Homo sapiens: one gene and its partners. The gene in region 1 interacts genetically with each later gene. Each region holds a gene or a part of one and is shown in the gene's direction. Other genes may lie near its edges. The genes, in order: RAB1A, SEC23IP, TMED10 and EIPR1.

Region 1 (7,342 bases):
GCCTGGGAGACAGAGTGAGACTCCATCTCAAAACAACAACAACAACAACAACAAAAAAACACACACGAAAATATATATATTAAAGTTTGAGTCAGCAAAACTTTTAAAAAGTTTAATTTTTAGCCACTTTAAATTTGGAAAGGAAGTCTTAATGTAATTGCACATAAATTTCAGTGGGGGTAGAAAACACCCACCTACCATTCCCAGGCTAAGCTGCCTCTGACCTCTTCGCATAATATTCTACAACACGGAAGCTAAGCTATGAGGCTTTCTGTCCTTGGTACACAGCAGGTACACTTAAGACTTTCAGAGAAGCTGAGAGAAGTAGATGTTGGGGACCAGGACATACCACCTCAAATATCACTCTGGGGGACCAGAATATGCTCTCCTAAAATATTCTTCTTTGGTGGCATATTTTGAGCTGGTTATTCTAAGAAACTGTAGACACAGGAGTAGCTCTGAAAAGCTGTCCTTTTGTAAAATAAGTTTATGTCTACAAAGGAAATCTACATTAGTAACGTATCTATATCAGAGAGAGGGCTGCCTCAAGATAACTTTTATTACCTGAGAGACTTTTTATCTGCATGGCAGGACAATCTTTCTTTACCATGCATTTCCCCTCTTGCCCTCCTGTAGCTTATCATTACCTCTCCGAAGGCCCCAAGCCCCAGTTTTGTTTTTTTTTTTGAGATGGAGTCTTGCTCTGTCACCTAGGCTGGAGTACAGTGGTGTGATCTCAGTTTACTGCAACCTCTACCTCCCGGGTTGAAGATATTCTCCTGCCTCAGCTACCTGAGTAGCTAGGATTACAGGTACCCGCCACCATGCCTGGCTAATTTTTTCAATTTTTTTTTTTTTGAGATTGAGTCTCGCTCTGTTGCCCAGGCTGGAGTGCTGTGGCACAGTTTCGGCTCACTGCAATCTCCGCCTCCCAGGTTCAAGCGATTCTCCTGCCTCAGCCTCCCGAGCAGCTGGGATCACAGGTATGTGCCACCATGCCCAGCTGATTTTTGTATTTTTAGTAGAGACGGGTTTTCACCATATTGGTCAGGCTGGTCTTGAACTCCTCAAATGATCCACCTGCCTTGGCCTCCCAAAGTGCTGGGATTACAGGCGTGAGCCACTGTGCCTGCCCAATTTTTTGTGTTTTTAGTAGAGACAGGGTTTCGCCAGGTTGGCCAGGCTGGTCTCGAACTCTTGACCTCTAGTGATCCACCCACCTTGGCTTCTCAAAGAGCTGGGATCACAGCCGTAAGCCGTAAGCCACCGCGCCCGGCACCAAGCCCTATTCTTTTTTTTTTTTGAGATGGACTCTCGCTCTGTAGCCCAGGCTGGAGTGCAGTGGTGCCATCTCAGCTGACTGCAAGCTCCGCCTCCCGGATTCACGCCATTCTTCTGTCTCAGCCTCCCGAGTAGCTGGGACTACAGGCAGCCGCCACCACGCCCAGGTAATTTTGTTTTTGCATTTTTAGTAGAGACTGGGTTTCACCGTGTTAGCCAGGATGATCTTGATGTCCTGACCTCGTGATCCACCCGCCTTGGCCTCCCAAAGTGCTGGGATTAGAGGCGTGAGCTACTGCACCCGGCCACCAAGCCGTATTCTTTTCTGTAGCTCAGGATGCTTCAATCATCAGACCCTTCTTGGAGTCTCTTATTTTGAGGAACTCCCATGCATATGTACTTAATCAAATATGATTTTCTCCTGTTAATCTGTCTTAGGTTAATTTAGTTCATAAACTAGCCAAGGAACCTAGCAGGGTGGAGGGAAGTCATTTTTTTGCTCTCCTACAGAGAAAAGTAATTAACATTTACCAAGGGTCCCAAAGCCATTGTACTATATGCTTTACATTGTGTTTATTCAACGCTTACAGCTATCCTGTCACTTAGATTAAAAGCTACTAGGAGGTAATTTTTTTTTTTTTGGTGGTTGTTGTTGAGACTGAGTCTCGCTCTGTTGCCAGGCTGGAGTGCAGTGGCGCGATCTCGGCTCACTACAACCTCTGACTCCCTGGTTCAAGCCATTCTCCTGCCTCAGCCTCCCGAGTAGCTGAGATTCTGTAATCTCACGTGCCACACGCCACCACGCCCAGCTAATTTTTGTATTTTTAGCAGAGACGGGGTTTCACCATGTTGGCCAGGATGGTCTCGATCTCCTGACCTCATAATCTGCCCGCCTTGGCCTCCCAAAGTGTTGGGATTACAGGCGTGAGCCACTGCGCCTGGCAGGGGGTAATTCTTTGTTGGGAAAGAAAATAGTTAATTAAAGGAAGTTTGGGAGTATACTTCCCAGGGGAGGACAGATTGTATTTTTGGCTGAGGACGAGTTCTGGACAGTTTTCTGAGGGTTTTTTGGGGGTGTGTGTGTGTGTGTGTGTGTGTGTGTGCCTTTACTAGTGACTCAGGTCACAGTTTTCTGAGATTTTTTTTCTCCCCTCAAGACAGAATCTTGCTCTGTCGCCCAGGCTGGAGTGCAGTGGCCTCTCGGCCCACTGTAGCCTCCGCCTCCCGGGTTCAAGCAATTTTCCTGCCTCAGCCTCCCGAGTAGCTGGGATTACAGGCACGCGCCACCATGCCTGGCTAATTTTTGTATTTTTAGTAGAGACAGTGTTTCACCATGTTGGCCAGGCTGGTCTTGAATTCCTGACCTCGTGATCTGTCCGTTTTGGCCTCTCAAATTCCTGAGATTACAGGCATGAGCCACCGAGCCTGGCCAGTTTTCTGAGTTTTTATTTGAAATCAAAATAAGCTTTTTTTTTTTTTAATGGGCTTTAGAGTCCAGGGTAACGAACACTTTTTGGTGCCTATTACTGAACCATTCAGGGTATTCCTGGGGTGGTGACCGTGTTCATTTCAGAAACCAACATGTTCATTTCAGAAACCAAACTCGGGTAACTTTTGATAAGTTCATCAACTAAGGCCCATGGCAGAATTTGAGGGCTAAGGGGTGTAATTAGTGTATGGGTAGAAATAAGTGCCTTCTTTCTATATTTTGGCGTTGTAGGAATTTAAAGTGATTCTGCAGTAAGTCTCAGGAGACAATTTTCTTAGTTCTTAGAAGTTGGAAGATAAACTTTGGACAATGTATTACACTATGCCCTTTGTAATTAAATAACTCAAGATAATGTGTTAAAGTTTAGCGGAGATTTAAATTCCTGAGCTGATTAAAGAGAGCTGTTAAGGCCATAGGTTTTTTAAAAATGAGTTAATATTACTCCCAGAAATTGTAGGCACTATATAGTGATGAATTGCCTATTTTTATTGCTTATTATTTTCCAGTCTTGCAGAATGGCTCAGGGTTAGTAGCAACTAAAAGATAATACATTACAATTCAACCTGAAGGCCGGGACGAAGGTAGGAATTGGATTTTAGGCTGGCTCTGGGCTGTGTCCCTCCCATCCATGGGATGTGGAGCCATTGAAGGTTGTGGGGTCACGATGCAGGTGCTGTCTCAGAAAGATACATCCGACTGTGTGTGCAAATGGGCTGGGGCGGAGAGGAGAGAGAGAGGTAGAGTCCATTTGGAGACTACTGCAATAGCCAGGCTGACGAGTTAAGAGCGGGGCACAGTAAGAATGGGAAGAAATCTAAGAAGAAAATGGTAGTGCGCGGGGCCAACAATGGACGATGACCGAACCCAGGTGGGGATGGGTGAGTGACGAGAAGAACCGCTCCGTGCCGTCCAGGGAGCCCCTTGACTTCCCTTCTGTTCTTAGAGCGGACGTCCTCCTACCAGCCCCCAACCAGCGCCACCAGGGTGGCGCAAGCCTCAAGCTGGTCAGGTCAGCAACAGCCGCAACGGAGGCAGGAGCCGACACGCTCGTACCCCGGCCCCCTCCCCGCCCCCGCACCCCCGGCAGTCCCTCCGGTTTGACCACTCCCCCCGGTCCCTTGCCTCCCCCGACCCCCAGCCTCCGTCGGCCGCCGGCACCACCCTCCGCCCCTCTCCGCCCCCTCCCCCGTGGGGCGCTGACTCGCCCGGCTGCCACGTCTCACTGATGACATCACTAGGGCAGCTCGGCCTTAGCCAATCCGCCAGGGGGAGTCCGAGCGAAGTCCTAGCCAGCGAGTCAGAGGGGAGGGGAGCAGGGAGGGGCCGAGGGTGGGGAGGTGAGGGAGTGGGGAATGGGGCGGGCGACAACCCTTCAGGTACGCATGCCCCAGAGGCGCGGCGCTTGGCGGGAAGCTGAGTCCTGGCCTTGCGTCGCACTGTCTGTCCTCAGCTCGCGTAGCCGCGCTCGCGACTCCCTTTCCCGGCATGCCAGGCGGTGCGGCCGCCCTCTGGGCCGTGTAAAGGCCCCTCGGTCTAAGGCTTCCCTATTTCCTGGTTCGCCGGCGGCCATTTTGGGTGGAAGCGATAGCTGAGTGGCGGCGGCTGCTGATTGTGTTCTAGGGGACGGAGTAGGGGAAGACGTTTGCTCTCCCGGAACAGCCTATCTCATTCCTTTCTTTCGATTACCCGTGGCGCGGAGAGTCAGGGCGGCGGCTGCGGCAGCAAGGGCGGCGGTGGCGGCGGCGGCAGCTGCAGTGACATGTCCAGCATGAATCCCGAATAGTGAGTTCAGGAGAGCACCGGTCGGCTGGGTCCGTGGGCCAGCTTGGGGGATCTTAAAGGGGTCGAGGAGGGTTGGGGCAGAAGTCGGGGCATCGGCTGGGGTGAGGCGAGGGTGATGGGTCAGGAGAGGCTGGCGGCCGGGAGTCGGGCCCCATTGTCTGACGCGGAGGGGCGGCCGCGCGGGGGAGGGGTCGGGCCGGAGGGGTGAGCCGCCCGGGCCTGGACCGGGTCAGGTTAGAGGGCCTGACTGCGGGGCGGGTGCTGAGGAAGCCTGCCGAGGGGCCTGGGGCGGTGTGAAGGGGTATCTTCTCTCGGAGGCAGTGACTTTTGAAGGAGGACTTGTCTCTAAGGGGAGGGGATGGGGTGGGAGAGCCCTTCTAGAGGGCACTGTCAGACCCTGCGCCCGCACTCTGCGGAGCTGTCAGGATCTTCGGGGTAGAAACCAGCTTTACTTGTAAATCCTGAGCTTGTTGGCTCTCTCTCCTTCCATCCTCCCCGCCAGGTTTCAGGTAATATGGATGCTTTTCGGGACTGCGTGGGATTGAGGGGAATGAGTAGATGGTGAGAAGCAACTGAACATTTATTAGTTCTCTTTTTGAGTTGTGTCTTGGAGGAGTTGTTTAAGAGCTCGCCGGGTCCATTGCCCTCCTATAAAAACCTGGGCATTTGTGAGAATTTTGTTTTTTTTTTTTTTAAAGAGGACACCTAAGTCATTTTGTCTTCTGTGGGTCAAGGGAAAAAAAAAAAACTAAAGCCAAGAAATGTCTTTTTGATACTCGCAGATTAAAGGAAGCTTGCTGTCAAGTTGAAAGAGAAACGAACGGGACCTATGATAGATCTGTATGTAGGTTTTGGATTACCTGCTTGGATGCTTGCAGATAGGGAATGAGGTTCCATGACGTGTCATGAAAAGTTAATGCATTTCTTTTTCTTGCTTACTCAAGAAGTCACCACAGCAGATGTGACACACCTGGCACCTTTCCTGGGAACTGGTGTTCACTTCCCTTGGGTAGAGTTTGTTGGGCTCTCCTCAATGGCCCTTTAAAAATTTCCTCTACAGTTTACATGCATGTAAAGTAATGAATAATTGGAAGAGACCGAATTGGTATTCCTTTTCAGTGTCAAAGGCCTTTGAGGGATGGGGGAACATCAGTATTTGTTGTAAAAGTTGAGTTTATTTGCTGGTTTGGTCAATTACTGCTAGACATTTTCCCCTAAAAGGTCCACCCACCAGTTTAGCTGACTGTCATATGTGTGTCACATGGCTCTTGCAAAATGCTTACAAGTTTTGTAATAGTGTGGCTTGAAGCTGAAATCTTTTGCACTAAACAGAAACCGTAGTATTTTATTAGAATTTCATGTTTTAGAAGTTGAGGGTAGTGTTCTTGTAGTGACATTTGCTGTGTTGACAGTTTAAAAAAAATTTTTTTTCAAGGGCTCCAAGGACAAAGTTGGTTTTGCACAGTTGAACGGAGGTGAACTTGAGGTTCTTAATTTAGTAGTTTTCTTGGTAACAATAAAGAACATGGATTTACTGCTTTATCGAGGTTTATAGACCTCTACTGTTCAGGAAATTTTCTGAATTTGCTATATATATGTTTATTAGTGTAAATAAATCTTCAAGATTAGTTGAGAACTTTGACAAGTTACTCAGCCTCTGAATTTTTTTTCCCTTTTGTAAAATAGGATAATTGGAGTCATTATTCCTGTCAGGGTAGTGGTGAAATTCAAATGTATATAAAAGAATTTGAAAAACCGTGTGAGCATTCTTCAGGTGGTATGCATCATTTTCATGAAAGGCATTCTATTAGTACCAGGATTTAGGAATATAATCCTTGCGCTTAAGAAGTTTAGATATAGGCCAGGCGCGGTGGCTCACCTCAGTAATCCCAGCACTTTGGGAGGCCGAGGCGGGCGGATCCCGAGGTCAGGAGATCGAGACCATCCTCGGTAACACGGTGAAACCCCGTCTCTACTAAAAATGCAAAAAAATTAGCCGGGCGTGGTGGTGGGCACCTGTAGTCCCAGCTACTCGAGAGGCTGAGGCAGGAGAATGGCGTGATCCCGGGAGGTGGAGCTTGCAGTGAACCAAGATCTGGCCACTGCACTCCAGCCTGGACGACAGAGCAAGACTCCGTCTCAAAAAAAAAATTATTTATTGTTTTGAGACGGAGTTTCAATCTTGTTGCCCAGGCTGGAGTGCAATGGCGCAAATCTCCTCTCACCGCCACCTCCGCCTCCTGGGTTCAAGTGATTCTCCTGCCTCAGATTCCCGAGAAGTTGGGATTACAGGCATGTGCCACCACTCCCGGCTAATTTTGTATTTTTGGTAGAGACGGGGTTTCTCCATGTTGGTCAGGCTGGTCTCAAACTCCCGAAGTGATCCGCCCGCCTCAGCTTCCCAAAGTGTTGGGATTACAGGCGTGAGCCACCGCGCCCGGCAGAAATAGATTTTATACATGTCAAATACCAGTAGATATAGCAAATTCCAGATGTGTGGCATGGATGAGAGCAACAAGATTTCAGGGGGATGGTGGGTTGTGGTTGGCTATCTGGGTTTTGGAAGACTTTATAGAAGAGAGACCTGAAAGGGATTTATCAGCAATTAGATTTGGAGGAACAGAGGGAGTGACTAGGAATTTTCAAGGGGGAGAAGAAGGAGGAATGGCTCATAAATGACAAGGACAGTAATTAATAAGTAAATACGGTGTCAAATCATCCTTTCTTTTGAAGACTAATGACCTCAAAGGGATCAAACCCAGAAACAGTTTTTATATTTTTTCTGGGATC
Region 2 (7,023 bases), on another chromosome or scaffold:
TTTGCAGTTAACTGGAAGAAAAATGGAAGAGTAATCTTCCCTCTTTAAAAATAAAATAGAAATCTTTGCATATGACTTATATAGCAACTAACTCTTCAGAGAATCCCAAAATTCATAGTATAGTTATAGGCACAAATAACTTTAAAAAAAAAACTGAATTGTTTTTGAGACAGCATCTCACTGTCACCCAGGCTCTGGAGTGCGCTGGCATGATCATGGCTCACTGTAGACTTGGCCTCCTGGGCTCAAGTGATCCTCCCACCTCAGTCTCCCAAGTAGCTGGGACTATAGGTGCAAGCCGCCATGCCTGGCTAATTTTTAAATTTTCTGTAGAGATGGGGTCTCACTGTGTTGCTCAAGCTGGTCTTGATCTCCCGGGCTCAAGCGGTCCTCCTGCCCTAGCCTCTCAAAGTGCTAGGATCACAGGCATGAGCCACCACATGTGGCAGCACAAATTTTTTTGGTTTACCTTTATTTATACTTTTAATTTTTTTTTTGATGTGGAGTCTCGCTCTGTCACCCAGGCTGGAGTGTGGTGGCACAATCTCGGCTCACTGCAACCTCCACCTCCTGGGTTCAAGCGATTCTCATGCCTCAACCTCCCAAATAGCTGGGTGTACAGGTGTGTGCCATGACTTGTGGCTAACTTTTGATTTAAATTTTTTTTTTTTTTTTTGAGGTGGAATCTTGCTCTGTCGCCCAGACTGGAATGCAGTGGTGCAGTCTCAGCTCACTGCAACCTCTGCCTTTCAGGTTCAAGCAGTTCTCCTGCCTCACCCTCCTGAGTAGCTGGGATTACAGGTGTACACCACCACACTCGGCTAATTTGTGTATTTTTAGTAAAGACGGGGTTTCGCCATGTTGGCCTGGTTGGTCTTGAACTCCTGACCTCAAGTGATCCACCCACTTCAGCCTCCCAAAGTGCTGGGATTACAGGTGTGAGCCACCGCATCTGGCCTATCTTGATTTATTTATAATGACTATCTACAGAAACAACTCATAGTCTGTGGGGTTTTCTTAGTGTATTTTCAGGAGTCAAAAATCTAAACTTTAAAAAAATCTGTAAATTTAAGGTAGATGCTGACTGAATGTGCTGTATTTTTCTTTTTAAACAGGAATATTAAGAAAATCACTTTGCCAAGTATTGGTCGATTTCGTCACTTTACCAATGAAACTTTGCTAGATATTTTATTTTATAACAGCCCCACCTACTGTCAGACAATTGTGGAAAAAGTAGGAATGGAGATAAACCATCTGCATGCACTCTTTATGAGTCGGAACCCAGACTTCAAAGGAGGTGTCTCTGTTGCTGGTCACAGTTTAGGTAAAACTGTCAAATATTCACATTTTAAATACAATTTTTGTTGAGTCATAACTGCTTTCAGTGTAGGTGATATTGTTAGTGCAAAATTAAGAATTACAGATTTTAAGTTTCAGAAAAGGTAGAAATGAATGCTCTGAGTTTAGATTCTGCCTTTTCTATATTCACCTCTAGTATTACCTAGGGAATGCTATGTATTTTACTTTATTCTGCTGTTTGATAAAATAATTAATTATCAGGTCTTGAATAACATGTAACTTCTGTATGACTTTTGACTATAGACAGTGAAAAAAGAATTAGTGTTATAAAAGTACCTACTACATTATAAGGCAAAATGTTTCTTTTTCATAGGTTCTTTAATATTGTTTGACATCCTGTCTAATCAAAAAGATTTGAATTTATCAAAGTGCCCTGGACCTCTTGCTGTTGCTAATGGAGTTGTGAAGCAGCTACATTTTCAGGAAAAGCAGGTACGTCTGTACGTGGCCAATTAACATTTCGATTTAGAGTCTATGGAGCTGAACAATTTTCAAAAGTCTGAACTGTTTCTTGAAACTTTTGTTTGTTTGTTTGTTTGTTTGTTTGTTTTAACTGAGCCTCATTGGTTGCTTGGGCTAGTCTTGAGTTCCCTCCTGGCCTCAAGCGATCCTCCTGCCTTGGCTTCCCAAAGTGCTGGCATCAATAACTCTTCAGAGAATCCCCAAATTCAGAGTACAGTTATAGGCCCAAATATAATAGCTTCCGTGTCCAGCCCTGAAACTGGTTTTACATATTAAAGTACACCGAGGTTTAGAAATGGAATGGAATCATATAGCTCATTATTTGAGTTTCTCACTCTTCTTCTTTATGGGTTATAAATTTAAATGTGAAAGTTTGTGATTTTTAAAAATGTAAATTATAGGAAATGGAGACTTGAGTGATTTATTAAATTTATATACTTTTCAGAATATTCAATTTTTTTTTTTTTTTGAGGCGGAGTTTCACTTTTGTCACCCAGGTTAGAGTGCAATGGTGTGATCTCGGCTCACTGCAACCTCCGCCTTTCGGTTTCAAGCGATTCTCCTGCCTCAGCCTCCCGAGTAGTTGGGATTACAGGCGCCTGCCACCAAGCTGAGCTAATTTTTGTGTTTTTAGTAGAGACAGGGTTTCATCATGTTGGCCAGGCTGGTCTTCAACTCCTGACCTCAGGTGATGCACCTGCCTCAGCCTCCCAAAGTGCTGGGATTACAGGCGTGAGCCACTGGGCCTGGCCAGAATATTCAAACTTTGAATGGCAAAGTACTGTGCCTAAAATTATGATTTCTGTGTAAAGCAAAATTGTTTGAGAGTTTTCGTAGATCAGCAGTCATTATATGGGAGTTTTTCTGAGCTTGTAATGTTTTTCATACTTTTTTTTTTAAAGATGCCTGAAGAGCCAAAGCTGACTTTGGATGAGTCGTATGACCTTGTTGTTGAAAATAAAGAAGTCCTAACTTTGCAAGAAACTCTGGAAGCACTTAGCCTCTCTGAATATTTTAGCACTTTTGAAAAGGAAAAGATTGATATGGAGTCCCTGGTACTGATCATAGTTTGCTTCATTTTGTTTGAAATTGTTTTTCTTGTGTAGATTGAAAATTAAGAATAAACATTTTCGTATCAAAATACACTCCAGAGTAGACAAAGACTGAAATGTTTTAAAAAATTGAAAAACACAGAAGAATATTTTTTTATAATCTGAAAGGCTTTTCTGAGTATGATGCAAAATCCAGAAGCCATCAAAGAAAAAAATTGTATAACAGTAGACACCATAAACAACATCTAAAGGCCAGTGATACATTTGCAACACACATTATAGACAGAGGGCTTACTTCATTGATTTTCAAAGCTTCTACAAATCAGTTACAGAAAGACCATCACATCAGTGTGATATGTAAATAGGCAAAGAATATAAACATGATTTACAGAAAAGGAAATAACAAATGGTGTCTTCGCATATGAAAACTCATAAGAGAAATGGAAATTGAAAGTACAATGGGATTTTTTTTAACTTACCAGTTTGAAAAAATAGGAAGTTTGAAAATATGCTATGTGGCCAGGGTGAAGGGAACTAGGCATTGTTATATATTGTTGGTCAGACTGTAAAATATTACAAACTCTTTGGAAGGCAGTTTGGCAATATCTTTAAGAATATAAAAATTACCCTTTGCTTCATCAGTTTCATTGCCAGGAATATTTCCTATAGAGAAATATTCAAACAAGAATTATCTACAAGGATACTCACAGCAGTGTTTGCAAGGTAACAAAACATTAGAGACACCATTGGTGTTGAGGAGTAGGGTGCTAGTGAAATCATTTATGGTGCATCCGCATAACGGAGTACCCTACAGCTGTTGAATGAATGATGCAGTGTCAGAGATACCCGTCTCTAAGGTACATTTACATGAAGAGAGCAGAGTTCATTACTGTGTGCATAGTAGAGCACACACACAGAGAAAAACATGTAAGTGCTATGCATACATAAGACATCGCTTCAAAGAGAGCAAGTTTCCACAGTTGCGCTGAGAGGAGAATTCTATGTTTGGGACAGCAGTGGGAGGAAGATATTTCATCGTATGCTTGACTATAGCTTTGGAATTTTGTATACCATATGTGTATTTTCTGTTAATTAATAGAATGATTTAGGTGTGGAAGCCTAAGATTTTATAGCCTAAACTGATGCATGATTTAAATACAAAATAACTAACTTGTAAAAAGTTGAGTGGCTCTTAGATTGCTTTAGATGATGTGGTTTCTTTATAATTTTCATATTCTCATTTCAGTTCTTCTATCACTAGATTGATTAATGTGCTTGTCTGTTTCCTTTTAAAGCTTATGTGTACAGTTGATGACCTGAAGGAAATGGGGATACCCCTTGGACCCAGAAAGAAGATAGCTAACTTTGTAGAACATAAAGCAGCCAAACTGGTAAAGTTCACCTCTGACTCAAGAAAAACTAAAACTCATGGTGTGACCAGCTCGTTTATATTATAGAAAATTTTAATACTACTATGGTTAGGTAAGCTAGTTTGCTCCCTACCTAGGGCACAGTAATGGAGCTGATGGAAACCCAGACTTAGGAGTCAGAGTTGGGCTTAAGTCCACATTAGGCTAAGTGACCATCCTGGTTTTCCTGGGACTAAGTTCCTAGGATGAAGGGCTTTCAGTTTTAAAATGGATATTTAAGGTTTTCCTGGTGCAAACAGTGGTTAAGTTCTGACAAATAAATTCTCAGCTCAACTGCTCATTAACTGCGTATTAATGAGCAATTTGTATTTGGTTTTATTCATTTGTTTATTTTGAGATGGGATCTTGCTGTGTTTCCCACTGCTGGTCTCAAACTCCTGGGCTCAAGCTATCCTCCCGCCTCAGCCTTCTGATCATGAGTGATTTTCTTAATTTTTCTGATCCTTTGTTTTCTTCATTTCTAAAATGGAATAATACCTTCCTTACAGGATTGGAGTAAGCATGAAATAATGCATGCAAAGCTTAGCACCAAGTAATAGCTCACTTTCTTCCCAGTCCTTACCATCTAAAGAGATGAGGAAAAACATACACACTGAAGTCTTAAACACTAAACAGCAAAAATTGTTAACAATACAAAACAAGGCAACAGCTAAAAAGCATTTAAAACTAGAACAACTGGAAAATATACTTGTTTTATTAATTTTAATTTATTGATCAAATTAATTTTACAGAGGTTTTCTAATTAGAAAAATTAGATGACTCTTAGGGTGGCCGTCTTATTTGTATTGTTATTAACATGCTCTTTGATGATCCTTCCATCTTTTGAATTTCTATGGTTCTATTATTTTACTACCTGTTTGGAACTTAACCTACATCATTTCTTTATATGGGAAATGACTATAAAGTCATAGGACTGATTTTTTTTTTAATGGTTAGCTTAAGGAATTGAGTCTTCTCAGCATTTTATTGAATAGCAGCTACCTCTTTTGAGTCAGGCACTGTGTTCAATTCTTGGGAGCCGGAGATTAACCAAGAGTGTGCTGTCTAGTTGCGGGGAGCACGTTGAGCTCAAATGACAACATACCAGCCCCATAATAGCGTGCTGTGTGTGCTGTCCTGAGGCAGATGAGAGGTGGCAGTTCTGGCTTGTTGAGACAAGCATGGGGTTGGTGAGAGAAGACTTCTCCAAGGTGATGGTGCTTGAGCTTGAAGGAGGGGTAAGGTCAGGGGAGATGGCCTTCTGGAATCTGGCATGTGTTTTCCTGTAGCATCAGGGAAGCTGGAAACTGGGAAGGGCAGAGGGTTCCAAAGGCCCAGGTGGCAGGTGTGGAGGCTTGGATTTTCTCTTGTAAGGGAGTGGTTTTCAAACATGTTCTTATGGCCATGAAAGTCATGGTGTTTTTAAACATTACAAAATGCTGACCTGCTTATTCTATCACAAGTTATGATTTAGCACCAAATCATCTGTGTAGTCTAAATTTTAATTTTAACTTTTGGACTGTGGAGAGTTTGCTTGGTCACAGTGCACAGATGAAGTTGGAAAGGCGTGAAGTGGAGGCGGCTGCAATCTTACATAGTAGTAATTGTAATTGTACAGTGACTGAAAGAGAGATGATAGGGGTATAAGGTAGGAGGTGGAGAGGAAGGGAGCAACTCAAAAGACATTTTAGACATAGACAAGCAGTATTTGATTAAGTGCTGAGAAAGGTTATTAGTTTTGGCAGTTAAGAGGTATCTTTCATGTCATTTTTCTTGTGTGTTGAATCGTTCTGTAATTCCAATTTACAAAGAGCTTTTCATCTCACCTGAGCCTCACAACAACCCTGTGAGTAGATCCCCAGGCTTTTGTCTCTGATGAGCACAATAGTCAAACTGAGACTAGGACACAAGCATGTCAGTGTTGTTTCTGTATACAGGCTGCGTGCTCCATACAGAAAAATGCTTGTCTCCGTGTATACATCAGTGAAGCAAAAGCCTATAAAAAAAAAAACAAAAAAAACAAGAAATGAGAAGCTTTGTGTTCAGGCCCTACACCATGTTCTTAATTTATTCTGTAATGAAAGGGAAAAAAGTAGAAAAGGATTCTATAGTTCTTGAAGAATTTCTAGAAGGAGACTGGTTTATGGACTGCAGTTGCTTAGATATATAAATTATGGCATTATAAGAATGTTTTGAAATGAGCAAAAATCTATAGAGTGATCTTATTTTTTAAATTAAAAGGTAATTGCCTTTGGATGAACCATGAAACTTTCTCAGCTGAGTTGCCATTGATTGCTTTACACTTCTTACAGATAACAAGGTGCTACTAGATCAATACAAAAGTAATATGGTGTGTCCTGTTGATTTACTGTAACTGAAATAATGGGACCAAAATTAGCGATTATTTTATAACAAGGAGATCAAATATTTGTGATATTTGTGACTGTGTGCTTTTTTTTTCTTTTTAAAGCATCTTAGTAATTTTCATTTGAAAAGGAATTGTTTCTAGTGTTGGGGATATTGATAGTCAAGTATGTATATGTTGGTTCCGTTTTTTTTTTTTTGAAAGGGAGTCTTGCTTTGTCTCCCAGGCTGGAGTGCAGTGGCACGATCTCGGCTCACTGCAACCTCTGCCTCCCAGGTTCAAGCCATTCTCCTGCTTCAGCCTCCCAACTAGCTGGGATTATAGGCGTCTGCCACCACACCCAGCTAATTTTTGTATTTTTAGTAGAGATGGGGTT
Region 3 (7,841 bases), on another chromosome or scaffold:
GCCTCCAGAGTAGCTGCGACTACAGGCATACACCACTATGTCCAGCTAATTATTGGTATCTTTTGTAGAGATGGGGTTTTGCCATGTCACCCAGGCTGGTCTGGAACTCCTGGACTCAAGCAATCTGCCTGCCTCAGCCTCCCAAAGTGCTGGGATTATAAGCGTGAGCCACTGTGCCCAGCCCGAATGCAAATTTTTAGTAAGAGCTTCTGATTCACCATCTGGGGTGAGGTGTATTTTAAACATGCCCCCTCTTACACAAAGGAAAATTTGAGAAACCTATGGCTTAGGGATAGATTGGCAGAGGGTGTCTTCATGATATTTCTTCACCTCCAGAGGCTCCAGTGGCTCAGGAATCTTAGGTGGATTTGGCTGGGGAAGTTTCAGGATGACAGGACGGCAGAAGACTGCTGGCCAGAGAGAAGCATTTACTGTAGTTATGGGACACTTTCCATTTGCTCTCCAAGTCAAATGAGGCCTTTCTACCATGCAGATGTAAAACGGTATCTTTTTTTTTTTTTTTTTTGAGTTGGAGTCTCGCTCTGTCGCCCAGGCTGGAGTGCAGTGGCGCAATCTCAGCTCACTGTAACCTCTGCCTCCTGCGTTCAAGCGAATCTCGTGCCACAGCCTCCCAAGTGGCTGGGATGCAGGCGTGAGCCACCACACCCAGCCAATTTTTGTATTTCTAGCTGAGATGGGATTTCACCATGTTGGCCAGGCTGGTCTCGAACTCCTGACCTCAAGTGATCTGCCTGCCTCAGCCACCCAAAATGTTGGGATTATAGGCGTGAGCCACCGCGTCTGGCCCAATGGTAACTTCTTTTTTTTTTTTTTCTTGAGATGAGTCTCGCTCTTTCGCCAGGCTGGAGTGCCATGGCGCAATCTCAGCTCACTGCAACCTCCACCTCCCAGGTTCAAGCAATTCCCCTGCCTCAGCCTCCCAAGTAGCTAGGACTACAGGCACGTGTCACCACGCTGGGCTAATTTTTTGTATTTTAGTAGAGACGGGGTTTCACCATGTTGGCCAGGATGGTCTCCATCTCCTCCTGACCTCATGATCCGCCTGCCTCAGCCTCCCAAAGTGCTGGGATTATAGGCTTGAGCCACGATGCCCGGCCGGTAACTTCTTTAACACAGGTGCAGGCTTAAAAGTCTTGGTTCCATTCCACAGCATACAGAGGAGAATTGTTTTTGTTTGTTTGTTTTTCTGTGTCCTTATATAGAAACAAGAGTGTATTTTCCATTTTTTTTAAGAAAAGATAGACATGTTGGTGACACTGAAACTGTACCTATGCTTTAGATACATTATGGATTAAACAAATTTATGTGAAAACAGCTAAAGAATAATGGGAGAAATTTGTGGTTGCGCTTTCTAAGGTACCAGTCTTAAATTCATTGTACCATTATTTATTGTACCTAAGTGCTAGGCACTGTTTTAGGTTCAGAAGATAAAACAGTGAAAAAATAGATAAAAATCCCTGCCCTCACAAAACAGACATTCTAGTTAGGGAGACAGACTAATAAACACAATAAGTAAGTAAAATGTATGCTTTATTTGATAGTAATGAGTGCTAAGGGGAAAATTATAAAGGAGGGAAGAAAGACAGGAGGTGTTGGAGGATGGGGATAAGTAAGACTACAGGACAAGAAAGGACTGGAAGCCGGGCGCAGTGGCTCACACCTGTAATCCCAGCACTTTGGGGGCTGAGGTGGGCAGATCGCAAGGTCAGGATGTTCAAGACCAGCCTGACCAACATGGTGAAACCCTGTCTCTTCTAAAAATACAAAAATTAGCCGGGCATGGTGGTGCGCGCCTATAATCCCAGCTACTCAGGAGGCTGAGGCAGGAGAATCACTTGAACCCAGGAGGGGCAGGTTGTGGTGAGCTGAGATCGCACCACTGCGCTCTAGCCTGGGCAACAGAGCCAGACTCCATCTCAAAAAAGAAAAGAAAGGACTTGAGAGCTGTGACACAGAAAAGTAACTGCTGTGCATCTGAGTTTCTTCATCTTTAAAATAAGAAATAATAGCATCTTCCTGAGGATAGCTCAGGCCCCTAGACTGCTTTTGTCACTTTTAAGCTTATGAGGTTTGGGGTACTGACAAAGATTCTCTCCTTGACCAAACTTTACCCACGCTGTTCTGATCTGTCTTCTCAATAGGCTCTGACTTTTGGACTTCCATGACTCTGCATTGTCCAATTTTAGGAAGAATCCTGCTAAGTTAGTTTAGCCAGAATCTCCCCTTACTCCCAATATTTCCTTTTAGTAATTTTCCATCCACTGACCCTGATTTTTGGCTGTAAATCCCTACTTTTCCTTGTATTTGGAATTGAGCCCGATCTCTCCTTCCTACTACAAAACCCCATTGTCATAGGCCCTTGTATTACCTATCTTGGCAGTCCCCCTTGAATAAAGATTTGCTTTACAATTTTTTTTTTTTTTTTGAGAAGGAGTCTCGCTCTGTCGTCCAGGCTGGAGGGCAATGGTGTGATCTTGGCTCACTGCAACCTCCACCTCCTGGGTTCAAGCAATTCTCCTGTCTCAGCCTCCCAAGTAGCTGGGATTACAGGTATCCACCACCATGCCCGGCTAATTTTTTGTATTTTTAGTAGAGATAAGATTTCATTATGTTGGCCAGGCTGGTTTCGAACCCCTGACCTCAAGTTATCCGCCCGCCTTGGCCTCCCAAAGTGCTAGGAGTACAGGTGTGAGCCACCGCCTCTGGCCTGCTTTACAGTTCTTTAACAAATGTCATGAAGTATTTTTTCTTTAACAGTATAATTATTTGGCCTCTCAGAACCTCGGTTTCCTCATCTGTAAAATGAACAGATTGTCCAGACTATTTCACAGGGTTTTTGAAAATGTCAGAGGAGATCATTATGATATGTGAAAATATTTTAAATTGCATTATCTATTATGTAAATGTAAGATGGAAATTTAAAGGAAACACATACACAGTTTTTTCATGGGTTGAGATCTCTTGCTATTGGTCAGCAGAGCCTCAGGAATGCAAGTAGACAATGAATTAGATAACTGCTTATACTGATTCCCTGCATTGGCAGGGAAAAGGCCAATGCAAATTATCAGGATGTACTGTGTGGACTACCAATCTTATCTTAGATCAGTGATACAACAATCCAACTAAATGCTCCTAAGTGGACACCTCATAAAATAATTATTGTATGGCATTTGTCAAAATTTTAAATGCTTTACAGCTCCTTTGTTTGTTCTTGTTTTGTCTGTGGGATTTCATTTCTAGGAAAATAACTAAATGGACTAAGTTTAAAAAAAAAAAACACCAATCATGTACATTACTAAGGGCAGACAGTCCATCTTCTGGATATTTCTGAAGATGCTCAATAAACGTTAATCAAAGTAGGTAATGATTCCCAACATGGGCTATTGTGTCTTCCACGTTTATTTTCTACACTTGATGTTAGCCAAAAGGCCAAGGAGCAATTCCATTTTCTTTCTTTCCTTCTTTCTTTTCTGAGACAAGTCTCACTCCGTCGCCCAGGCTGGAGTGCAGTGGCGCCATCTCAGCTCACTGCAACCTCCATCTCCCGGGTTCAAGCAATTCTCTGCCTCAGCCTCCTGAGTGGCTGGGATTACAGGCGCCCGCCACCAAGCCCAGCTAATTTTTTTGTATTTTTAGTAGAGACGGGGTTTCACCATCTTGGCCAGGCTGGTCTTGAACTCCTGACCTCGTGATCCACCCGCCTCAGCCTCCCAAAGTGCTGGGATTACAGGTGTGAGCCACCGCGCCTGGCCGTTTATTTTAATATATTCTTCAGCTCTGAATATTTGCTAGTATCCCAGTAATAGTTTGTTAAATCAATAAACGTGTTGACATACATGCATAGCATAATGTCTGGCACACAGTAGGTACTCCATTGAATGAATGCATGAATTATTACCGTGTCAATTTGCTTGTCTATTTGCAAATGTTAATAGTTAATTTGATCCCTAAAGTGTTTGTGAACTTAAAACACACACATACGCACTTTCCCTGACAACGCTTATCTGCTAACCCCTTAATTATGTTCATCTGAGACTGGACCAAAACATGTTGTTTTATTCAATTTAAATACCAAATTCAAATTTATTTTGAATATAGCTTAGAACACATTCAATGTTTGCTAAAATAATAATAATAATAATAATAATAATAATAATAATAATACCATGTACATTCAGTTAGCCAGACAATTACTCCAGCCCAAATACCCTGCTATGGGACATGAACCGGATGTCTGCCCGGCACACATTCATCAGGTGACCCCTAAAACTTCTTCTCTAAGGTCCACACTGTCTAATAGCCAAGTTGAAATCTTTCCTCGAAATTTTCCTCTCTAGTGTCTCAGTGCCCCAGGTGTCATCAAGGTGTCAAAGGCGCTTGGGAGTGCCTGCAAACCGCCCCATCCCCGGAGACACAGCCTCATTCCCCGCCCTCGCGCCTAGGCGGCCGGTGGGCGGGCCCAGCGAAGGGCCTTGTGGCTGTTTCCTATTGGGGCTTGGTTGCTATGGTGTCACTCGCCTTTAAACTCGTGGGTACATCTTTCGGAAATTAAAGGAGAATTACTTCCAGGGCTGCCCATACTTGCCATGGCCGACTCAGTAGTCACTAACTTCAACAAAAATAAAACTGTTGCAATAGTATTCTATTAAAGCTTCTTTAACTGCTTAAACTTGCGGTTTTGACATGGTACCTATCCTTTCTTCCCTTTTCAAAAGATTCGCTATAGAGTCTTTCTCTACATGCCAGTCTCCAAAATGGCGCGGACGGCATCAGAAGGTCAGAGGTGAGTCACGTGGGTCCCCCCGGTTCCGGCGCGGTTGAGGCCTTCGGTGGTGAACGAGTCTCCAGCACCATGTCTGGTTTGTCTGGCCCACCAGCCCGGCGCGGCCCTTTTCCGTTAGCGTTGCTGCTTTTGTTCCTGCTCGGCCCCAGATTGGTCCTTGCCATCTCCTTCCATCTGCCCATTAACTCTCGCAAGTGCCTCCGTGAGGAGATTCACAAGGACCTGCTAGTGACTGGCGCGTACGAGATCTCCGACCAGTCTGGGGGCGCTGGCGGCCTGCGCAGCCACCTCAAGGTGCGGCATTGGGCGACGTGGGGCCGGGAGGGAAGACGGCAGGCTTAGGCGAGGGGAGGCTCGGGTTCGGGGGAGTCGGGCCGGCGGAGGCCTGGGAGTTGTTCTGGCCTCCCGGGAGCGCAAAGGACGTGCGGTGGAGCCCGCCCCCTCACCCCGCTGGTTGCCTGTCGCGGGGCGGGGCGGGTCACCAACGCCTGGGAACCCCAAGAAGGGCTGCGAGGCTTTGGCGGATGTGGTGACACCTGAGCTGGGGCGGTTGTCAACGTCCTATACCAGTTTTGGTCTCAGATACATTGAACCGTAATTTGGTTCTCCAAATAAATGTTGGGGTGTTGAATATTTATACGGATTGGCATCATAAGATACCGCGATACCTGCAGGAAAGTAAAGGAGACAGAGCTAACCGTGATTAATAAAATGTTATTTATTGAGCATCTGCTGTGTCAGTTACTGTGCTACTTTGCATATATTACCATTTGGTTCATGCACTACCCTATGAAGTAGGTAGGTACTGTTAGCCCCATTTTACAAATGAGGAAACTGAGACTCAGAGGTAGGATAAACTAGTAAGTGTCACAGATGGAATAGATTCTTTTTTTTTTTTCAAAATTATTATTATACTTTAAGTTCTAGGGTACATGCGCACAACTTTCAGGTTTGTTACATATGTATACATGTGCCGTGTTGGTGTGCTGCACCCATTAACTCGTCATTTACATTAGGTATGTCTCCTAATGCTATCCCTCCCACCTCCCCCCACCCCACGACAGGCCCCGGTGTGTGATGTTCCCCACCCTGTGTCCAAGTGTTCTCATTGTTCAATTCCCACCTATGAGTGAGAACATGCGGTGTTTGGTTTTCTGTCCTTGCGATGGAATAGATTCTTACTTAGTTTGGTAGTTAAGTATGTTGAGGGAAAAGCGCTGCAACCTTATTCCTTCCTTGTTTTAAATTTGTAATTTCTGTAGTTGATTAAAGTCGATTATTGGTTACAAAATGGTCTCAGTCTCTAGTCCTTTTTCTTTGGTATGCCAGAATCTGGACTTGGCTCTTTTATGTAAATACCAACTATGCTCTTGGATGGTGACAACTACTGCCATAATACCAGTTTGATTCTGTTTTGTAGCTAAGAGTAGCCTGGCCTGGTCTTTGAGACATTAATATAATTTGATATCTGTCAGTATTTGGTTGCATTTTAGGTAATTTTATTCATTCACAATAAGCAAAGTGTCTTTTTTTTTCTTTGTAACACAATGGGGCTTTTGTTATACTAAATAGAAACATTTTTACTTTTTTTTTTTTTTTTTTTTTTTTTGAGACGGAGTCTTGCTCTGTCGTCCAGGCTGGAGTGCTGTGGCGCGATCTCGGCTCACTGCAGCCTCTGCCTCCCGGTTTCAAGCAATTCTCCTGCCTCAGCCTTCCGAGTAGCTAGGACTACAGGCGCCAGCCACCACACCCAGCTAATTTTTGTATTTTAGTAGAGATGACGGTTCACCATGTTGGCCAGGATGGTCTTGATCTCTTGACCTCGTGATCTGCCCGCCTCGGCCTCCCAAAGTGCTGGGATTACAGCCGTAAGCCACCGCGCCTGGCCTCGTTTTTACTTTTTAAAAGGGTTTCAGATATAATAAGACCATAACTTATGTTAAAGTAGTGGAACCCAGTAGTGTGGTAATACATGTAATTTATTTCTACTTTATTTGGGAGAGACAAACTATTTTCAGGGCAATTAATCTGTGACCCATCATTTTATTATTCTGTTTGGGTATCAAACTCTCTACCCAGGAAAATAGTGATGGCATGATTTTAGAAGCTTAGATATAGTGTTTCCGGGGTGGGAGATCATGCTTCCAACTCTTCAGAGGATGTTCATGGACTCAGGGAATTTCAGCAATGAAAGAGACCTTGCTCTCATCTCGTGTTGCTGTCTGATTTGTTCTTATATTTTAAAGCCCTTCAGTGGCTCACTATTGCTTATTGATAGTTTAAATTTCTCAACATGCTTTGTTGTGCTCTTCATGATCTGTTTCTGAGCTATACGTGTGGTCACTTCCCACTTTGCATTCTACATGGAGCCACCCTGGACAGTACCCTGAACTCACTTATTTTCTGAACTGTTTTTGTTTATGCCTTGACCTACTTACTAGACTGTTAGTATCCTCAGGGTAGGAACTATTTTCAGGTTCATCTTTTCTAGAATGCCAAGCATGTTACCTTGCTTCTAGTAAGTACTCTATAAATAACAGGAACTGTAGTTTAGCATGGCCTTATGGGAATTACATTGAATTTAGGGCTGCTGAAGGCACCTCAACAGCAGGACTTTAGGCCGGGCTTGGTGGGTCATGCCTGTAACCCTAACTCTTTGGGAGGCCGAGGCGGGTGGATCACCTGAGGTCAGGAGTTCAAGACCAGCCTCAGCAACATGCTAAAATCCAGTCTCTACTAAAAATACAAAAATTAGCTGGGCATGGTGGCGTGTGCCTGTAATCCCAGCTACCCGGGAGGCTGAGGCAGGAGAATCACTAGAACCTGGGAGGCAGTGGCTGCAGTGAGCTGACACCGTGCCACTGCACTCCAGCCTGGGCAACAGAACAAGACTCGGTCTCAAAACAAAACAAAACAAAGCAAAACAAAAACCAGCAGGACTTTGTGCACACACCCTAGCACTTTACTATCACTCAGTTGCTCTCCTGTGTCTGCTCTGTTCTTTTGCTACTAACCAGCTTAATGGAACCACAAGGGT
Region 4 (7,023 bases), about 62 Mb from region 1:
CACTGACTTCCACAATGGTTGAACTAGTTTACAGTCCCACCAACAGTGTAAAAGTGTTCCTATTTCTCCACATCCTCTCCAGCACCTGTTGTTTCCTGACTTTTTAATGATTGCCATTCTAACTGGTGTGAGATGGTATCTCATTGTGGTTTTGATTTGCATTTCTCTGATGGCCAGTGATGATGAGCATTTTTTCATGTGTCTTTTGGCTGCATAAATGTCTTCTTTTGAGAAGTGTCTGCTCATATCCTTTGCCCACTTTTTGATGGGGTTTTTTGTTTTTTTCTTGTAAATTTGTTTGAGTTCATTGTAGATTCTGGATATTAGCCCTTTGTCAGATGAGCAGGTTGTGAAAATTTTCTCCCATTTTGTAGGTTGCCTGTTCACTCTGTTGGTAGTTTCTTTTGCTGTACAGAAGCTCTTTAGTTTAATGAGATCCCATTTGTCAATTTTGGCTTTTGTTGGCATTGCTTTTGGTGTTTTAGACATGAAGTCCTTGCCCATGCCTATGTCCTGAATGGTAATGCCTAGGTTTTCTTCTAGGGTTCTTATGGTTTTAGGTCTAACGTTTAAGTCTTTATTCCATCTTGAATTAATTTTTGTATAAGGTGTAAGGAAGGGATCCAGTTTCAGCTTTCTACATATGGCTAGCCAGTTTTCCCAGCACCATTTATTAAATAGGGAATCCTTTCCCCATTGCTTGTTTTTGTCAGGTTTGTCAAAGATCAGATAGTTGTAGATATGCGGCATTATTTCTGAGGGCTCTGTTCTGTTCCATTGATCTGTATCTCTGTTTTGGTACCAGTAACATGCTGTTTTGGTTACTGTAGCCTTGTAGTATAGTTTGAAGTCAGGTAGCGTGATGCCTCCAGCTTTGTTCTTTTGGCTTAGGATTGACTTGGCGATGAGGGCTCTTTTTTGGTTCCATATGAACTTTAAAGTAGTTTTTTCTAATTCTGTGAAGAAAGTCATTGGTAGCTTGATGGGGATGGCATTGAATCTATAAATTACCTTGGGCAGTATGGCCATTTTCACGATATTGATTCTTCCTACCCATGAGCATGGAATGTTCTTCCATTTGTTTGTATTCTCTTCTATTTCATTGAGCAGTGGTTTGTAGTTCTCCTTGAAGAGGTCCTTCATGTGCCTTGCAAGTTGGATTCCTAGGTATTTTATTCTCTTTGAAGCAATTGTGAATGGGAGTTCACTTATGATTTGGCTCTCTGTTTGTCTGTTATTGGTGTATAAGAATGCTTGTGATTTTTGTACATTGATTTTGTATCCTGAGACTTTGCTGAAGTTGCTTATCAGCTTAAGGAGATTTTGGGCTGAGACAATGGGGTTTTCTAGATATACAATCATGTCGTCTGCAAACAGGGACAATTTGACTTCCTCTTTTCCTAATCGAATAGCCTTTATTTCCTTCTGCCTAATTGCCCTGGCCAGAACTTCCAACACTATGTTGAATAGGAGTGGTGAGAGAGGGCATCCCTGTCTTGTGCCAGTTTTCAAAGGGAATGCTTCCAGTTTTTGCCCATTCAGTATGATATTGGCTGTGGGTTTGTCATAGATAGCTCTTATTATTTTGAGATACTTCCCATCAATACCTAATTTATTGAGAGTTTTTAGCATGAAGCGTTGTTGAATTTTGTCAAAGGCCTTTTCTGCATCTATTGAGATAATCATATGGTTTTTGTCTTTGGTTCTGTTTATATGCTGGATTACATTTATTGATTTGCGTAGATTGAACCAGCCTTGTATCCCAGGGATGAAGCCCGCTTGATCATGGTGGATAAGCTTTTTGATGTGCTGCTGGATTCAGTTTGCCAGTATTTTATTGAGGATTTTTGCATCAATGTTCATCAAGGATATTGGTCTAAAATTCTCTTTTTTGGTTGTGTCTCTGCCCGGCTTTGGTATCAGGATGATGCTGGCCTAATAAAATGAGTTAGGGAGGATTCCCTCTTTTTCTATTGATTGGAATAGTTTCAGAAGGAATGGTACCAGTTCCTCCTTATACCTCTGGTAGAATTCGGCTGTGAATCCATCTGGTCCTGGACTCTTTTTGGTTGGTAAGCTATTGATTATTGCCACAATTTCAGATCCTATTATTGGTCTATTCAGAGATTCAACTTCTTCCTGGTTTAGTCTTGGGAGAGTGTATGTGTTGAGGAATTTATCCATTTCTTCTAGATTTTCTAGTTTATTTGCGTAGAGGTGTTGGTAGTATTCTCTGATGGTAGTTTGTATTTCTGTGGGATTGGTGGTGATATCCCCTTCGTCATTTTTTATTGCGTCTATTTGATTCTTCTCTTTTTTTCTTTATTAGTCTTGCTAGCGGTCTATCAATTTTGTTGATCCTTTCAAAAAACCAGCTCCTGGATTCATTAATTTTTTGAAGGGTTTTTTGTGTCTCTATTTCCTTCAGTTCTGCTCTGATTTTAGTTATTTCTTGCCTTCTGCTAGCTTTTGAATGTGTTTGCTCTTGCTTTTCTAGTTCTTTTAATTGTGATGTTAGGTGTCAATTTTGGATCTTTCCTGCTTTCTCTTGTGGGCATTTAGTGCTATAAATTTCCCTCTACACACTGCTTTGAATGTGTCCCAGAGATTCTGGTATGTTGTGTCTTTGTTCTCATTGGTTTCAAAGAACATCTTTATTTCTGCCTTCATTTCATTATGTACCCAGTAGTCATTCAGGAGCAGGTTGTTCAGTTTCCATGTAGTTGAGCGGTTTTGAATGAGTTTCTTAATCCTGAGTTCTAGTTTGATTGCACTGTTGTCTGAGAGATAGTTTGTTATAATTTCTGTTCTTTTACATTTGCTGAGGAGAGCTTTACTTCCAACTATGTGGTCAATTTTGGAATAGGTGTGGCGTGGTGCTGAAAAAAATGTATATTCTGTTGATTTGGGGTGGGGAGTTCTGTAGATATCTATTAGGTCCGCTTGGTGCAGAGCTGAGTTCAATTCCTGGGTATCCTTTTTAACTTTCTGTGTCGTTGATCTGTCTAATGTTGACAGTGGGGTGTTAAAGTCTCCCATTATTATTGTGTGGGAGTCTAAGTCTCTTTGTAGGTCACTCAGGACTTACTTTATGAATCTGGGTGCTCCTGTATTGGGTGCATATATATTTAGGATAGTTAGCTCTTGTTGTTGAATTGATCCCTTTACCCTTAAGTAATGGGCTTCTTTGTCTCTTTTGATCTTTGTTGGTTTAAAGTGTGTTTTATCAGAGACTAGGATTGCAACCCCTGCCTTTTTTTGTTTTCCATTTGCTTGGTAGATCTTCCTCCATCCTTTTATTTTGAGCCTATGTGTGTCTCTGCACGTGAGATGGGCTTCCTGAATACAGCACACTGATGGGTCTTGACTCTTTATCCAATTTGCCAGTCTGTGTCTTTTAATTGGAGCATTTAGTGCATTTACATTTAAGGTTAATATTATGTGTGAATTTGATCCTGTCATGCTGTTAGCTGGTTATTTTGCTTGTTAGTTGATGCAGTTTCTTCCTAATGTCGATGGTCTTTACATTTTGGCATGAGTTTGCAGCGGCTGGTACGGTTATGCCTTTCCATGTTTAGTGCTTCCTTCAGGAGCTCTTTTAGGGCAGGCCTGGTGGTGGCAAAACCTCTCAGCATTTGCTTGTCTGTAAAGTATTTTATTTCTCCTTCACTTATGAAGCTTAATTTGGCTGGATATGAAATTCTGGGTTGAAAATTATTTTCTTTAAGAATGTTGAATATTGGCCCCTACTCTCTCCTGGCTTGTAGAGTTTCTGCCGAGAGATCCGCTGTTAGTCTGATGGGCTTCCCTTTGTGGGTAACCCGACCTTTCTCTCTGGCTGCGCTTAACATTTTTTCCTTCATTTCAACTTTGGTGAATCTGACAATTATGTGTCTTGGAGTTGCTCTTCTCGAGGAGTATCTTTGTGGCATTCTCTGTATTTCCTGAATCTGAATGTTGGCTTGCCTTGCTAGATTGGGGAAGTTCTCCTGGATAATATCCTGCAGAGTGTTTTCCAACTTGGTTCCATTCTCCCCATCACTTTCAGGTACACCAATCAGGTGCAGATTTGGTCTTTTCACATAGTCCCATATTTCTTGGAGGCTTTGTTCATTTCTTTTTATTCTTTTTTCTCTAAACTTCCCTTCTCGCTTCATTTCATTCATTTCATCTTCCATCACTGATACCCTTTCTTCCAGTTGATCGCATCGGCTCCTGAGGCTTCTGCATTCTTCACATAGTTCTCGAGCCTTGGCTTTCAGCTCCATCAGCTCCTTTAAGCACTTCTCTGTATTGGTTATTCTAGTTATACATTCGTCTAAATTTTTTTCAAAGTTTTCAACTTCTTTGCCTTTGGTTTGAATTTCCTCCTGTAGCTCGGAGTAGTTTGATCGTCTGAAGCCTTCTTCTCTCAACTCGTCAAAGTCATTCTCCGTCCAGCTTTGTTCCGTTGCTGGTGAGGGACTGCGTTCCTTTGGAGGAGGAGAAGCGCTCTGCTTTTTAGAGTTTCCAGTTTTTCTGCTCTGTTTTTTCCCCATCTTTGTGGTTTTATCTACTTTTGGTCTTTGATGATGATGATGTACAGATGGGTTTTTGGTTGGATGTCCTTTCTGTTTGTTAGTTTTCCTTCTAACAGACAGGACCCTCAGCTGCAGGTCTGTTGGAGTTTGCTAGAGGTCCACTCCAGACCCTGTTTGCCTGGGTATCAGCAGCGGTGTCTGCAGAACCGCGGATTTTCGTGATCCGCGAATGTTGCTGTATGATCGTTCCTCTGGAAGTTTTGTCTCAGAGGAGTACCCGGCCGTGTGAGGTGTCAGTCTGCCCCTACGGGGGGGGTGCCTCCCAGTTAGGCTGCTCGGGGGTCAGGGGTCAAGGACCCACTTGAGGAGGCAGTCTGCCCGTTCTCAGATCTCCAGCTGCGTGCTGGGAGAACCACTGCTCTCTTCAAAGCTGTCAGACAGGGACATTTAAGTCTGCAGAGGTTACTGCTGTCTTTTTGTTTGTCTGTGCCCTGCCCCCAGAGGTGGAGCCTACAGAGGCAGGCAGGCCTCCTTGAGCTGTGGTGCGCTCCACCCAGTTCGAGCTTCCCGGCTGCTTTGTTTACCTAAGCAATCCTGGGCAATGGCGGGCGCCCCTCCCCCAGCCTCGCTGCCACCTTGCAGTTTGATCTCAGACTGCTGTGCTAGCAATCAGCGAGACTCCGTGGGCATAGGACCCTCCGAGCCAGGTGTGGGATATAATCTCCTGGTGCGCTGTTTCCTAAGCCCGTCGGAAAAGCGCAGTATTTGGGTGGGAGTGGCTCAATTTTCCAGGTGTTGTCTGTCACCCCTTTCCTTGACCAGGAAAGGGAACTCCCTGACCCCTTGCACTTCCCGAGTGAGGCAATGCCTCGCCCTGCTTCGGCTTGCGCACGGTTCGCTGCACCCACTGACCTGCGCCCACTGTCTGGCACTCCCTAGTGAGATGAACCCGGTACCTCATATGGAAATGCAGAAATCACCCGTCTTCTGCGTTGCTCACGCTGGGAGCTCTAGACCGGAGCTGTTCCTAGTCGGCCATCTTGGCTCCTCCCTGAAATATTATTTTCTGAGGTTTGAAAAATGAATGAAATTGATTCTCTAAGGTAGTCAAATATATTATTGGATTTTCTTCTTTATCTTAAAAGAAGTAGCTGACTTTTGCTACTTGGATTTTATCGGATAGTATCATGGACCAAGACTTTCTTAAGTTTGAAGAACCATCATTGCAGTAAACAAGAAAACTGAAAAGGATAGTGTTTTTTTTTGTTTGTTTGTCAGTGACATTCAAATCCCATGGAGAACACTTTACATGAAAGGATAGAGATCTGATCGTTGACCGCTGAGTGAAGGTAATGACACTTGAAAGATAAAGGGCAGTACTGCAACTGCAAATAAAAGACCAACACGGAGGGTCGTTAAGATCGCAAAATGCTGAGCAAATTCATGGTAATGATTCTGGATTTTTTTATAATTATATTTGAAATGCATGAAATTTCAAATGATATTTGAAATGCTTTTGCACACTTTTAGTTTACTGCTCAGTAGAAATCCATTTTCTCAATATGAGTTTAATGAATACTTGTCAGTTAACACAACAGTAGTTCTTTGTGACTATCTCAAAGTGCATACAAACAGTATGACTTCTCTCCTGCAATCATGTTTCTTTGAACTTTTGACATTAATAGATCTTCTTTGTTGTGTGGGTCAAATCTCCATGTGGCAAACTTGCCTTGTGATGGGAACAGTGAACCTCTAGGCAGTGGTGGCTCTGCCCATGTGTAGGTCTGGGGGCAGGCATGTGACTAAGATGGACCAGCGGCAAGCAGGGCCTGCAGGTGTGGGCAGAGTGAGGGCTACATCTGCCAACTCCTATTTGAGCCCACTGCTGCCAAGTGAGCTGGGCCAGACCAGAAAGGACGGTCGGGGTGGGAAGGTGGGTGACAATGATGACTTGGGCTTGTTTCAAGTTGCTTTCCCTTCGGTTTACCACCAAAACCAGGAAGCAAGCAGGGCAGGTTGTAAGCCACACAAGGATATGCGTGCCTCCTTTCTGTTCTGGGAGGTTCTCCTGGAGTCCTGAGATCAGTGCAGTCAGGTCAGAGGGGCAAAGAGACTGTGGGCTTTTGGCTTTTTGTGCCATCAGTCTGAGGGACAGATGGACCAGGCCAGCGCTTCAGGGTCTGCCTGTTGCCAAGTGAGGAAAGACTTTTGAAATGGAAGATGGAGATTAAATTTTCTTTTCTTTTTTCTTTTTTTGAGACAGAGTCGCTCTGTCACCCGGGCTGGAGTGCAGTGGCGCGATCTCAACTCACTGCAAGCTCCGCCTCCCGGGTTCACGCCATTCTCCTGCCTCAGCCTCCTGAGTAGCTGGGTCTACAGGCGCCTGCCACCGCGCCTGGCTAATTTTTTGTATTTTTAGAGAGGGGGTTTCAGGGTGTTAGCCAGGATGGTCTCGATCTCCTGACCTTGTGATCCGTCTGCCTTGGCCTCCCAAAGTGCTGGG

What was found.
Region 2: changes in RAB1A (region 1) and SEC23IP are lethal when combined (synthetic lethality), as found in Homo sapiens cells (2 studies listed by BioGRID, with this or other methods).
Region 3: changes in RAB1A (region 1) and TMED10 are lethal when combined (synthetic lethality), as found in Homo sapiens cells (one study listed by BioGRID).
Region 4: changes in RAB1A (region 1) and EIPR1 are lethal when combined (synthetic lethality), as found in Homo sapiens cells (one study listed by BioGRID).

Annotation. Positions count from the first base shown.
Region 1 is NC_000002.12:65,127,103-65,134,444, reverse strand, and holds the start of RAB1A (ras-related protein Rab-1A), read left to right. Parts: upstream 1-4,338; 5' UTR 4,339-4,529; coding exon 4,530-4,552; intron 4,553-7,342. UniProt on the Homo sapiens protein: The small GTPases Rab are key regulators of intracellular membrane trafficking, from the formation of transport vesicles to their fusion with membranes.
Region 2 is NC_000010.11:119,916,721-119,923,743, forward strand, and holds part of SEC23IP (SEC23-interacting protein), read left to right. Parts: intron 1-1,115; coding exon 1,116-1,324; intron 1,325-1,672; coding exon 1,673-1,791; intron 1,792-2,723; coding exon 2,724-2,876; intron 2,877-4,168; coding exon 4,169-4,264; intron 4,265-7,023. UniProt on the Homo sapiens protein: Plays a role in the organization of endoplasmic reticulum exit sites. Specifically binds to phosphatidylinositol 3-phosphate (PI(3)P), phosphatidylinositol 4-phosphate (PI(4)P) and phosphatidylinositol 5-phosphate (PI(5)P).
Region 3 is NC_000014.9:75,173,612-75,181,452, reverse strand, and holds the start of TMED10 (transmembrane emp24 domain-containing protein 10 precursor), read left to right. Parts: upstream 1-4,840; 5' UTR 4,841-4,873; coding exon 4,874-5,098; intron 5,099-7,841. UniProt on the Homo sapiens protein: Cargo receptor involved in protein vesicular trafficking and quality control in the endoplasmic reticulum (ER) and Golgi.
Region 4 is NC_000002.12:3,367,796-3,374,818, reverse strand, and holds part of EIPR1 (EARP and GARP complex-interacting protein 1), read left to right. Parts: intron 1-7,023. UniProt on the Homo sapiens protein: Acts as a component of endosomal retrieval machinery that is involved in protein transport from early endosomes to either recycling endosomes or the trans-Golgi network.